Linked DNA regions of Homo sapiens. The protein of the gene in region 3 purifies or fractionates together with the protein of the main gene of each other region. This does not show direct contact. Each region holds a gene or a part of one and is shown on either strand. Other genes may lie near its edges.

Region 1 (3,753 bases), on a different chromosome or scaffold from region 3:
ACATGAAGTCTAAAACATGAGATTTCCCTCAACTTTTTACTTAAGAATCTAAGCCAAAGTTAACCATGCCTTCTAATTGTAACCTAAGAGCAGGACAGGTGTTTTCAAAAGTCGTTATTTTACTTGGGCCTGAATTTTTTTTTCATTTCTCCTTTTCACTTATCTATATGATCATGCACTATAGCTGCCTGGAAAATGGTTGAGGCCAAAAAACATAATCAAACACCCCTACAAGCAAGCACATAAGTTTTCTGAAAATAAGTTCCTGGGTGTTTCTCTGTGACAGTAGTACAAATTGGGAGTATCCAGCTTGATCCTGGGTTTCTAAAGGATTTATACAATAACATCATGAGACTCTTTTCAATGTTCCTTCTGATAGTGTGTGTGTGAGTGTGTGTGTGTGAGAGAGAGAGACAGAGAGAGAGAGAGCACATGCATAATGGACTTAATAATAAATATAGCATATTTATGAGACAACATGAAAAAAACTGAAAAATGTAAATGAGAATACCTGGTTATTTCAGATTTACTTTTTGGCCACCATACAGCCACAGCCTAAGGTTAGAGATTTTAATCTCTTAACTACAAATGGCAAACTAGTTTTCTTCTGAAGCTTTCCTCAGGAACTTCAATGAAAAAACAAGCCAAAAGTGTATTTGTAACATTAATCATTCTTAAAGAATCTCTTGCCTGGTATAAAAATAAACACCTCATGATATCAAGTTTATAAGCAGGAAATATAACAAATACCAAAGCAAAATATAAGGACCACATCAAATAAGAAACTGCCTCTGAGTAAATATGGAACAGAAAAGAAAATATGACACCTACTTCAAAGCCAGAACATTGGTGAGCTTATCAAAATGCAATAGTTCTACAAAACCATTCTCTTCTCACATTGGGTGGGCAACTCAGAGACTGGCCACTAATACCAAATAGCTTTTCAAAACCTGGACTGAGGAAACTGAATACTTTTGCAGGGAGATGTATGTGTGTGACTCTCCTGACATGCCAAGAGATTCTATACCTATGTCTCTCAGCCCCTAACTCATCACTTAGTTATTCCTTGAGGCCTGAGGATGAAGTCCACAGTCCTCCCTGGTTCCAGCTTTTCAAACATTGTAGGTATGGCTTGTGTTTTTTTTTTTTCTTTGCTTCTCTCCTTTTCCTTTTATCTAGTTCTTTTCCCTTCTATTGCTTGCCTTTTATTTACTGGGCTTTCTTCAGAGAAAGAAAGGGAAATGGACTTCCTCTGCATAGTAAACAAATAGGCAGGTCAACTCATCCCCATTACAAGTGTGCAGCCTGACATTTTTACCAAAGCTCTCTCCCTGAAAGTGAGAGGGCAGAAACTGCACAAAGAGTTAGGTGAACAATATAAGAAGCATACCAATCAGCTACCTGGGATGGCCTTTTATTTTCTCCAAAATCCCCTGAGTGGTTCTCAAAGTGTGGGCCTGGGACCAGCAGGATCAGCATCACTTGGACACTTGCTATAAATGCAAATTCTTGGCCCCACCCCAGAGTTACTGAATCAGAAACCCTGGAGGGTCCCTTTTGCTGGGCATCATTCCATTTTTACTATGGGCACTCTCAGCACCAGCTAGCCAACTGACTTGTCCACAGGCCAAATGGCTTGGTGGACAGGCCAAAATTTTCAGCTATCTGTGATTCTGATATACCCTAAAGTTGGAAAACAACTGCTCTAGCTGCTGAAACTTCTCCCATTTCACCTATCAGTTGCAATCACCAACAACTCAGGGGCTGTGTTGAGTATGAAGCAGTCAGGACAAGCATTAATGTTTTAATTAAGAGAAAATGTCTTTCCAATGAATTGTGTTTTTAAATAAATTTATTGCATTCCTAGGAATGACTTTTTTATTGTCTTGGGGACAAATTTTCTTGTGTGGAACTCTCTCAACTAAGTGTTAACATAGATGATTAAATGTATGCAGTACTTTTCTAGAGTTCAAAGTTGAGAAGGGACCTTAAATGTCATCTGGTCCATGTCCCACACCATGCTTGAATTTTGCTAGCATCCTTGCCAAGTGGTGATTGCTCATGGAGGGCATAAAAGGCACACGTGGATTGCGTTATTATATGACCAGTGTGTTGCACACATAGCTATCACATATTGGAAAAACAAAGCTTTGCCATCATTGAGAACAATATGCAAGCCTTGTGTGTCAATCCAGTGCTATTAATATTTCATGACCAAAAAGAGTGGATTCCAACAGCTACCACATGTCCTTCCTTATATTGAATTTTTATTATATTGCTCATAAAATTGGCACATATCAGCAGAAATTGGACATTCAGAATTATTTGAGTTGTGCTTTCAGACTCATTTAGTAAGTAATTCTCAAAACTCACTTGCATTTTTAAGGAACGTCACCTAGAGTCATGTTGGTTTTTAGGGGTGGGGCGAGGTGCGGTGTGACATTTCAAGCTTAGTTTTAATTTAAAACTTCTAATAAATGTCAAAGTTTAGCCTTTTGACAAAGTGCTGCAAGTCAAACAAACACTAAATCACTGAACACTTTACAGAAAAAGTAAAATATTATCAATCTTGGAGTTCCTCATTCAGGTCAAGAGCTTATGGGTGGATGCAGCCATATATAACATAGCTACTTTGGAGTACAAGAGAAATGGCCTAATGAAGAGGAGAATGATTTGAAACTGACATGCCCCTGTCCGACACCCACCATGGACCATACTTTGGTTTCCATGACTCACATTCTGTCCAGGAAAGTGTGTGTGTGTGTGTGTGTGTGTGTGTGTGTGTGTGTGTGTGTGTGTGTTTATGCTAGCGTGTACTTTAAGAGCCTAGGTTGGTGCTATATACATACTAAATCCTAATTCATTTCATCATTCAGAAAATTTATTTTCTTTCCTTCACATTTTAAAAGACTCTTTAATGTGGCTATATAAGTTGCAAATATGAAGACCATTTGGGTGAGCATATGGTTAATAAATGCTTGAGAAATTCTATAAAACTGATAATAATGAGTTAAAACGTCATAATTTCTCCAAATGGGTATGCAATTTGACAAGTATGTACTGAGTGGCTCTTATGGGCTCAAATCAAAGCACATGGTGTTTTGCCATGCATCTTAACCTTCTTCTTGCACAATCAGACCATAATGAAAATTTCTGGTAAGACAAATTTCCCCCATCCAATTCACCTTTACCATACACTGCCACTCTCCACATACGGTTTTATGAGAATACCAGAGATTTTTTTAAACATCTATAAAATTGTTAATCCCTCACTACATACAAAAAGTTCCTAAATATTCATATATTTAATCTATGAGAGTCAACCAGACAAAAATCAGGGGATCCAGAAGACCCAGACTCATTTCTTTTTAGATGGATTCTTACTAGCCCTGTTGCTTGGGACTATTCTACCTATGCCTTTTGCCTCAAAGGGACCTCATAAGGATGGCAGACATCATTTAAATTCTAAAATCCATAGCAATTGGGTACAATATCAACCAAAGCATAATAATTTGCTATTAGAAAGAAGGAGAAAAAATCCTTTTGCATCTGTTCCTCCTATTAAACTAGCAGCTCGCATGTTCTTGCATAATTCTTTCACATCCCCAATCCTCCTTTCTATTCCCATGACATTTACTTCTACAATGAGGAATGAAGCATAAATTAGCCATTCAGATCCTGGTCCACAGCCATCAATAGCAACTTCAGTAATCGCTGCAATGTTCATCTCCATTTTTTTTTCAATCATTCTCA
Region 2 (3,753 bases), on a different chromosome or scaffold from region 3:
TCTCACTTTAGCTATAAGGTACAACAAGTGATATCTGTAATTTTTGGCTGCTCATTATCTACCTGCTCTTCAATACATTTACCACTTATTCCTTACATTTAATCCATTACAACCCTATGAACTGGTCAGCCTAATTATCTAGATGAGGAAAAAAGGTATCAAGAGGTTAGTAGTACAGAGTCAGTCAGCATATGACGGGGTGGGATTCCATCACAGGTCTGTCTATCTCCAATGCCATTATGTAATACACAGATCAAGTAAATGTTATGTAAACTTATCAATCCAAAAGTTGTTTCTAACCCCTAAAGTGTTCTTTTACTTACATCTGAAATACTTAGGACCTGATTCAGACTCAGTACTCCTGAGCAAAAGGAATTAGCCTTTATTGATGTAGAATTTCTATATAATAAAATGCACAGATCTTGAAGTGTTCACATCAATGAGTTTTGACAACTGTATATACATCCATATAATCACTAACCCAAGCAAAATATATTTACATCACTCAGAAAGTTGTGCCAAAGATGACCAACTCATCCTGGATGGCTGGGGATTTCCCAATTTGTGGCACTGAGGGTCCTGTATCCCTTGCTCCCGGGCAAACCAAGATGGTTGGTCACCCTATTTTGTCTTTTTGGCCTTACTTTTAAATGAATGACAAAAGGCAAGCAGGTGAGAAAAGCTGTCCTAGATACTTGGAGGGCAGAACTGCAAAGTGTGATGCTTGCTCTGCTCCGATGGCGGGGAGAGGTTACCATCAAATGAACAGCAACGGCATCGCCTGTACTGATTTTAGATGCCACACAGATGTCTTGAGTGATATGACATGGCCAGACTGTCCATCTGTAGACTATCGGCTGCAACTTCTCCCTATGACCTTTAGCCTGCCATCATTGAGCCTGCCTCTGTCAGGTCCCCGCATCACTTCTAATCTGCTGTGTGCTAGGAAACTAGATTACCTTGCATTAGCAAGCTAGAAGAGTAGGAATAAATAGGCTTTTGTGTTTTCAGTACATAGAATTTGTATTAACACTTTCAGCTGCTTAAAGTTCTTTTATAATTCCTGCCTACCTTCGGCTGGTTCTGGTTAGCAGAGGCTAACTGGTATCCTCCAGAGAAGTGAGTTGTTTTACTTCTCTTTGAATGATTTCACTTCCCCTTAATTACTCTGGTTGAGAGCAAAAATAAATTTCTGGGCATCATTCCAAATACTCACAGAAAGTGCTTCTATACCCAGCCCTTTCATGTCCCGGGGTAGAAGGTGTAAGCAAACCCACGGGCAGACACATCCCACCATTCCTGCCATTCCCTGATCTGGAGGTGGAACCAAACCTGTTCTAAACAGTCACTGACTCTGCTCTGTAGCCAAACTGGTATTTTGGAGCATCCTTTCTTAAGGCCTATCCTTCAATGCCTAATTCTAGGATACAGGTGGGCTTTATATCCTGAACCTGAAAAATAATGCCCATTTGGGATCCTTGAAAAGGATATTTTTTGTTGTACTTAACTTACTCCTGCATCTCACACTAGTCATGGTATTAGCATTTATTGTGTCCAGTGTTTAGGAACCACCCGCATCCACTCCGTAATCCACTGTCTCTTCTGTACTCAAGCTGTAAGCCTTTATCAGTGAATCTGAAGCAATAAAACATCTCAGGGTTTTTCTCTGTTCCGAGTTTACCTTCTCAGGTCTTTTGCTGACAGCAGCGATTTCACTGATTGGGAGAGCAGATGTGTTACTGGCAAAGATACAGTGATCTGGAATCACCTGCAGGGGAAAAGCATTTAACAATGTGTCAGGTAGGCCTGGGAGATGATTAGAGGCCACATCAAAGCTAATGAGTGACACCTGGGCCCAGCCCACTCTGTCCCCCACAACTGCTCAGACAGTAGATGTCACTCACCCAGACATTGACGGATCACCTAGGGGGTTTTGTGTCGGGGAATATGTTGACCTTGTTCCTTTTCCCATTCTGCCTTCCTCTAGTTATGGCCCATCATAAGGTCACCTTATCCTGACCTGGAGACTACATCTCAGCAGTTGGGTCAATAAAACAGCTTAGAACAACACTGAAAAGACGGCCTTGAATTGCAATTCATTGATTTCAACACCCAGCATGGGTGTCACCTCCTCTTTTGTTTGGATCTGCCCTGAATCACTCCCCGCTTCACCTTTATAAGAACAAGCCAAAATGTGCATGCTTGTCTCATTTTATACAGTGTGTTACTAAAAAACGGCATACCACTATAGTTGCAGCTACAGTACACAAATACTATTAACTATTAGCTTTATCCACCTGGAGAATAGTCTCTAATGCAGATTGTCTCCGCATTCTGGCCACGATCCCAACTTATTCATGTTTTTTTTTTGTTTTTTTTTTTTAAAGACAGAGTCTCGCTCTGTTGCCCAGGCTGGAGTGTAGTGGTGCAATCTAGGCTCGCTGCAACCTCCGCCTCCCAGTTATTCATGTTTTTATTCAGATGGTTGGATGAGAAACGTGGAAGGGACACCTGTCAAATGTGTGCAAATCTGGAACAGGCAGAATCCTAACAGAGATGAGAATCAAGGAGGAAGACACATTCAACACACTGAAAAGCTGAGTACAAAATAAGATTATAATGCAATAAAAGTAAAGTACTGCCTTAAGATTTAAAAAAAAAAGGAAAGAAAAGAACTGTATAGGTACTTGAAGGACAAGACCTGGCTTGGCAGTATTTGTGATAAAGATCCCATGATTTTAGTTAATCAAGAGTGGAGGGTGGGCATGGTGGCTAAACAACTATAATCCCAACACTTCAGGAGGCCAAGGATGGAGGATTACTTGAGGCCAGGAGTTCAAGACCAACCTCGGCATCATAGTGAGACCCTATATCTACAAAACATAACTTTTTTTTTTTTTTTGGAGACAAAGTCTTGCTTTTTCGCCCAGGCTAGAGTGCAGTGGTGCAATCTCAGCTCACCGCAAGCTTTGCCGCCTGGGTTCAAGCAATTCTCCTGCCTCAGCCTCCCGAGTAGCTGGGATTACAGGCACCTGCCACCATGCCTGGCTAATTTTTTTGTAGTTTTTAGTAAAGACAGGGTTTCATCATCTTGGCCAGGCTGGTCTTGAACTCCTGACCTCGTGATCCACCCGCCTCAGCATCCCAAAGTGCTGGGATTACAGGTGTGAGCCACAGTGCCCGGCCCTACAAAAAATAACTTTAAAAAACTAGCCAGGCATGGTGGTACATACCCATAGTCCTAGTTACTCAGGAGGCTGAAGTGAGAGGCTCGCTTGAGCCCAGGAGTTCAAGGTTACAGTGAGCTGTGATCATGCCACTGCACTCCAGCCTGGGTGACAGAGTGAGACCCTGTCTCTAACAACAAAAAAACAAAACAAAAGTGGAATGAATTGACAGTACAGCATGACTGTCAGAAAGCTTACGTAGTGTCAGGTTACTTTCTTAGTAATATAGTGTCTAATGCTGGTGGTGAAATCCTTTCTGAAGAGCAAACTAATGTCTCCAAAGCTGGCTGGCAAACATTCTTCCCTTCCTTGGACATGTATGTCTTTTCTCCCAGCTAGAAGTAGAGTCTGTTTCCCTTCTCCTTGAATCTGGGCTGGTCTTGTGACTTGTTTTTATCAACACAATGCAGCAGAAGTTACCCTGCCAGTTCCAGGCCTACCTAGACCTGTGGGGCCCGGTAGCCTCTTTTTTTATTTTTTAAATTATTTATCTTTTTTTCTTCCTGACAATAAACTTAGGAAGCTC
Region 3 (3,753 bases):
CTTGTTATATGTGCCCACGGCATGTTAAAGTTTTCACTACAGTCCTTATCATGGCTTGCAATCACACACACACACACACACACACACACACACACACACACACACACATTAATAAATAATTACTTGATTAATGTCTCTCCCTACTACTAGACTGTATCACCACTGTGTCCTCTGTGCCTAGTTCTAGATCTTTCCTCAAACAGAACACAAAATCCTACCCACACGTAGCACGTACAACCTCAGGCTGTCTAGCCACTGGACAAAATCTCCAGGGGCTCTCTTGGGTCACTACAATTCCATCCCTCTTTTCTCTCCTCCCTTTACTATTCCCGCCCTTAGTAAGAACAAAGAGCCTCAAAACCCTTTTTCCATTACCCCCTAGAAGAGCTTCCTATAGATAAGAGAAGCCCAGTCTCAAGTCAAGGACTGGTTGGTTCGGAGGAGAATGGCAAAAGAACTGGAGAGAGCAAATGGCCGTGAGCTGTGGACAGGATCCAAGTCTTCTACCAAGTCACGTTTTTGTATCTTACTATACTCTGTGTGAATTCAAGAAATGCTTTGAGAGTTGACTTATTAACCTGATCACTTTTGTTCTGTCTTCAATCCAGGAAAGAGAAGACTGAGACAGATAGTAGTAAAAAGTAGGTGTCGAAGGGAGTGGGGCTGAAGACCAGGTTTCAAGATGACTGCCCACTGACCACAGAAAATGAGTGTAATTCATGGAAATCAGGTTTAACAAAAATGTCCCAACCTTGAAGGTTGCAGGATATTGAGGAAAACAGTAACAGTTAAGAAAAAGAGTCTAGGCCGGGCACGGTGGCTCGCGCCTGTAATCCCAGCACTTTGGGAGGCTGAGGCGGGCAGATTACAAGGTCAGGAGATCAAGACCATCCTGGCTAACACGGTGAAACCCCGTCTCTACTAAAAATACAAAAAATTAGCCAGGCATTGTGGCGGGCGCCTATAGTCCCAGCTACTCGGGAGGCTGAAGCAGGAGAATGGCGTGAACCTGGGAGGTGGAGCTTGCAGTGAGCCAAGATCGCGCCACTGCACTCCAGCCTGGGCGACAGTGCGAGACTGCGTCTCAAAAAAAAAAAAAAGAGTCTAGGCTTGGAAAGGCATTGCTTTGCTTGGGTGGATGTCCCCAGAGATCTGGTTAAATAGCTTAGTAGAGGACTGAGTACTATATTACATCCTTTCCATAGAATCTGGAACCTGATTCTCAATACATAGACTGCCAATGCTTGGCGACTGACTGGTGGAGGACAGGGGATTATTGATAACTTTCTCTGATTCAACTTTGTCTGGAGACAGAAATATTAGACAGGCAGACTCTCACCGGCTTCTGGAGATGTTCTCCAGTCCAGAATTGCTTTATGTTTCTGGGTTGAGAGGTTACTGCATGCCTTATCTACAGACCTACACCAGAATACAAGCTTATCAAGAGCGGCTGCACACTTCCTGCCATCATGTCCCCTAAATGACAAACAAAGATGGTTTACATGTGCAAGTTGTGTGTGCTACCCTGTCTTAGGCACACAGTTCAATGCGGAAAGGAATGGAGGCCAGATGTGAAGTCAGGATTCTACCCAGCAGAGTTTTAATTGAGCTCCTGGGGCAAGAGTGAGGGGGTGGGCCAGCTGGCTCTCTTGCTGACCTTACTGTTATCTTAACTGTCAAAACCTCCCTGCTGTGTATATCCCTAAGGACTATGGCAAACTGTCCTATCCCATAGCATAAAGGGTGGGGATGTCTCTCCCTCTGTTTGGGGAATGACTGATCACCTAGTTTCAGCCAAGTTCTCAGTAATCTTCCTTCCGTCATTTTGCCAAGGCAGCATTTCACTTCATCTAAATGCCTCGAGCTCTCCAAACAGCCCCATTCCCCTTTTGCAATTTTCCAGGGGAAAAAAGTCACTATTGAATGTCCTTACTTCTGCAGCAGGAGGTCACTCTTCCCATTCTCCTGCCTAAGGCATCTGTCATCAACATTTGGACAGCTAGCACATCAGAACACAGAGGCAGTCCCACGTTGCTCAGCAGCCTAGAAATACATGCCCAGAACTGCCAGCTTTCCGAGTGGTGCTGGCTCCACAGCCGCATGAAGAGAGGAGGAAGGCGAAGACACTTATCCAAAGAACAGACACAACAACACAAAATCATTTGAAAAAGAACATCTCTGTCAGCAGCTACCACCGAGCAACAAGTCCTCCTTGAATGTGCTCCATGCTATGATTTCAATCCAGCGACGCTAAGCATAGCTCCACAGTTTCAAGGACACTGCAGTCAAACTTCGAGCTGGATGGTAAAAAGAAGCTGTTTGATTTACGAAGTGGGTCAACCAAAAGGAGCAATGCAAAAGGAAAGAGGTCAGGCCGGGGCCTGCCCCCTCCTTGTCCCATCCACTTCCACTGATATTTATCCTTTGTGAGAAGCCAAGAGTTCCAAGTCAGAAGGTTCTCCTGGAATATAACCAAGCTTAGACACAGAGGCCCACATTTTCTCTTGGATGATCCTAACTTTACTTCAAGGGCATCGCTCAGCTGGAGGCTTCCAGAACTGTTTACCCCAGACAAGGTCTGATTCTAAAAACATCCCAGAAAAAATATATTCTTAATTGTGCATAAATAAAAGAGGGGCAAAATGAAGCCTAAGAAGCCTGGGGTTTATTGAATACTTTCTCTAAGCAAGCACTGCACTGTGTTGTAAGTGGCACGTGTTGTAAGAGGCACTTCTGCAACAAACGTTTGAGCCCCCATTATGTGCAAAACATGCTTACAGGCACTGGGGATACAAAAATGAACAAAACAGCCAAAATCTTAGCTTTCACCGAACTGTTTGTTGTAGTTGTTGTTGTTGTTTGAAACAGAGTCTGGCTTTGTCGCCCAAGCTGGAGTGCAGTGGTGCAATCTTGGCTCACTGCAGCCTCCACCTCCAAGGTTCAAGTGATTCTCCTGCCTCAGCCTCCCGAGTAACTGGGATTACAGGTGTGCGCCACCATGCCTGGCTAATTTTTTTGTATTTTTTTTTTAGTAGAGATGGGGTTTTACCATGTTGGCCAGGCTGGTCTCGAACTTCTGACCTCTCAGGTGATCCATCTGCCTCGGCCTCCCAAAGTGCTGGGATTACGGTCGTGAGCTACCACACCCGGCCACTGAACTGACATTTTAGTGGGGCTGACAGGAATATATATGTCAGCTGGTGATAAATACTATGAGGAAGGATAAAGCAGACTAAGGGAATGCTATATAAAATTTTGTATAAAAATAAAGCAGAGGAGGGAGTGCTATTTTAGATAAAGTTGTCCTGGAAGGCTTCTCTGATTGCCATTTGATAAAAATAACTGCAAAAAGGGCTATCACATATATGATCACTGTGTGCTGGGAACTGTACTATGTACTTAACGTGCATTTAATCCTCAGCAACTCTGCATTCAGTACTATTACCATGCCCACGATACAGGACTGAATGAAGCTTAGAGAGGGTAAGGCTCTTGGCAGAATCTGCAGTAAGGGGAGCAGGGCCAGGGTTACATTGTAAGGGAAGAAACTAGGACTTGAACTCAGGGCTGCAACTTCAAACCACATGCTTTTCCTCACCACGCTGCAGCCAGGCTGGTGGAGAAAAGGAACCTCAAAGAGGTCAAGTGTGGCTGTGGCTACAAAGTAGCAGGTCCATCTGGCCTCCCCACACATGGCTAAGAGATTAACGCAATTCAATCTTCCCTAATATCAGACGATTACCCTCATCACCA

Evidence for each region.
Region 1: the proteins of MINK1 (region 3) and GPC4 purify together in Homo sapiens (affinity purification with mass spectrometry; 2 studies listed by BioGRID and IntAct, with this or other methods). This does not show direct contact.
Region 2: the proteins of MINK1 (region 3) and HADHA purify together in Homo sapiens (affinity purification with mass spectrometry; 2 studies listed by BioGRID and IntAct, with this or other methods). This does not show direct contact.

What each region holds. Positions count from the first base shown.
Region 1 is NC_000023.11:133,324,886-133,328,638, forward strand, and holds part of GPC4 (glypican-4 precursor), read right to left. Parts: intron 1-3,753. UniProt on the Homo sapiens protein: Cell surface proteoglycan that bears heparan sulfate. May be involved in the development of kidney tubules and of the central nervous system.
Region 2 is NC_000002.12:26,196,010-26,199,762, forward strand, and holds part of HADHA (trifunctional enzyme subunit alpha, mitochondrial precursor), read right to left. Parts: intron 1,769-3,753; coding exon 1,682-1,768; intron 1-1,681. UniProt on the Homo sapiens protein: Mitochondrial trifunctional enzyme catalyzes the last three of the four reactions of the mitochondrial beta-oxidation pathway.
Region 3 is NC_000017.11:4,836,295-4,840,047, reverse strand, and holds part of MINK1 (misshapen-like kinase 1), read right to left. Parts: intron 1-3,753. UniProt on the Homo sapiens protein: Serine/threonine kinase which acts as a negative regulator of Ras-related Rap2-mediated signal transduction to control neuronal structure and AMPA receptor trafficking.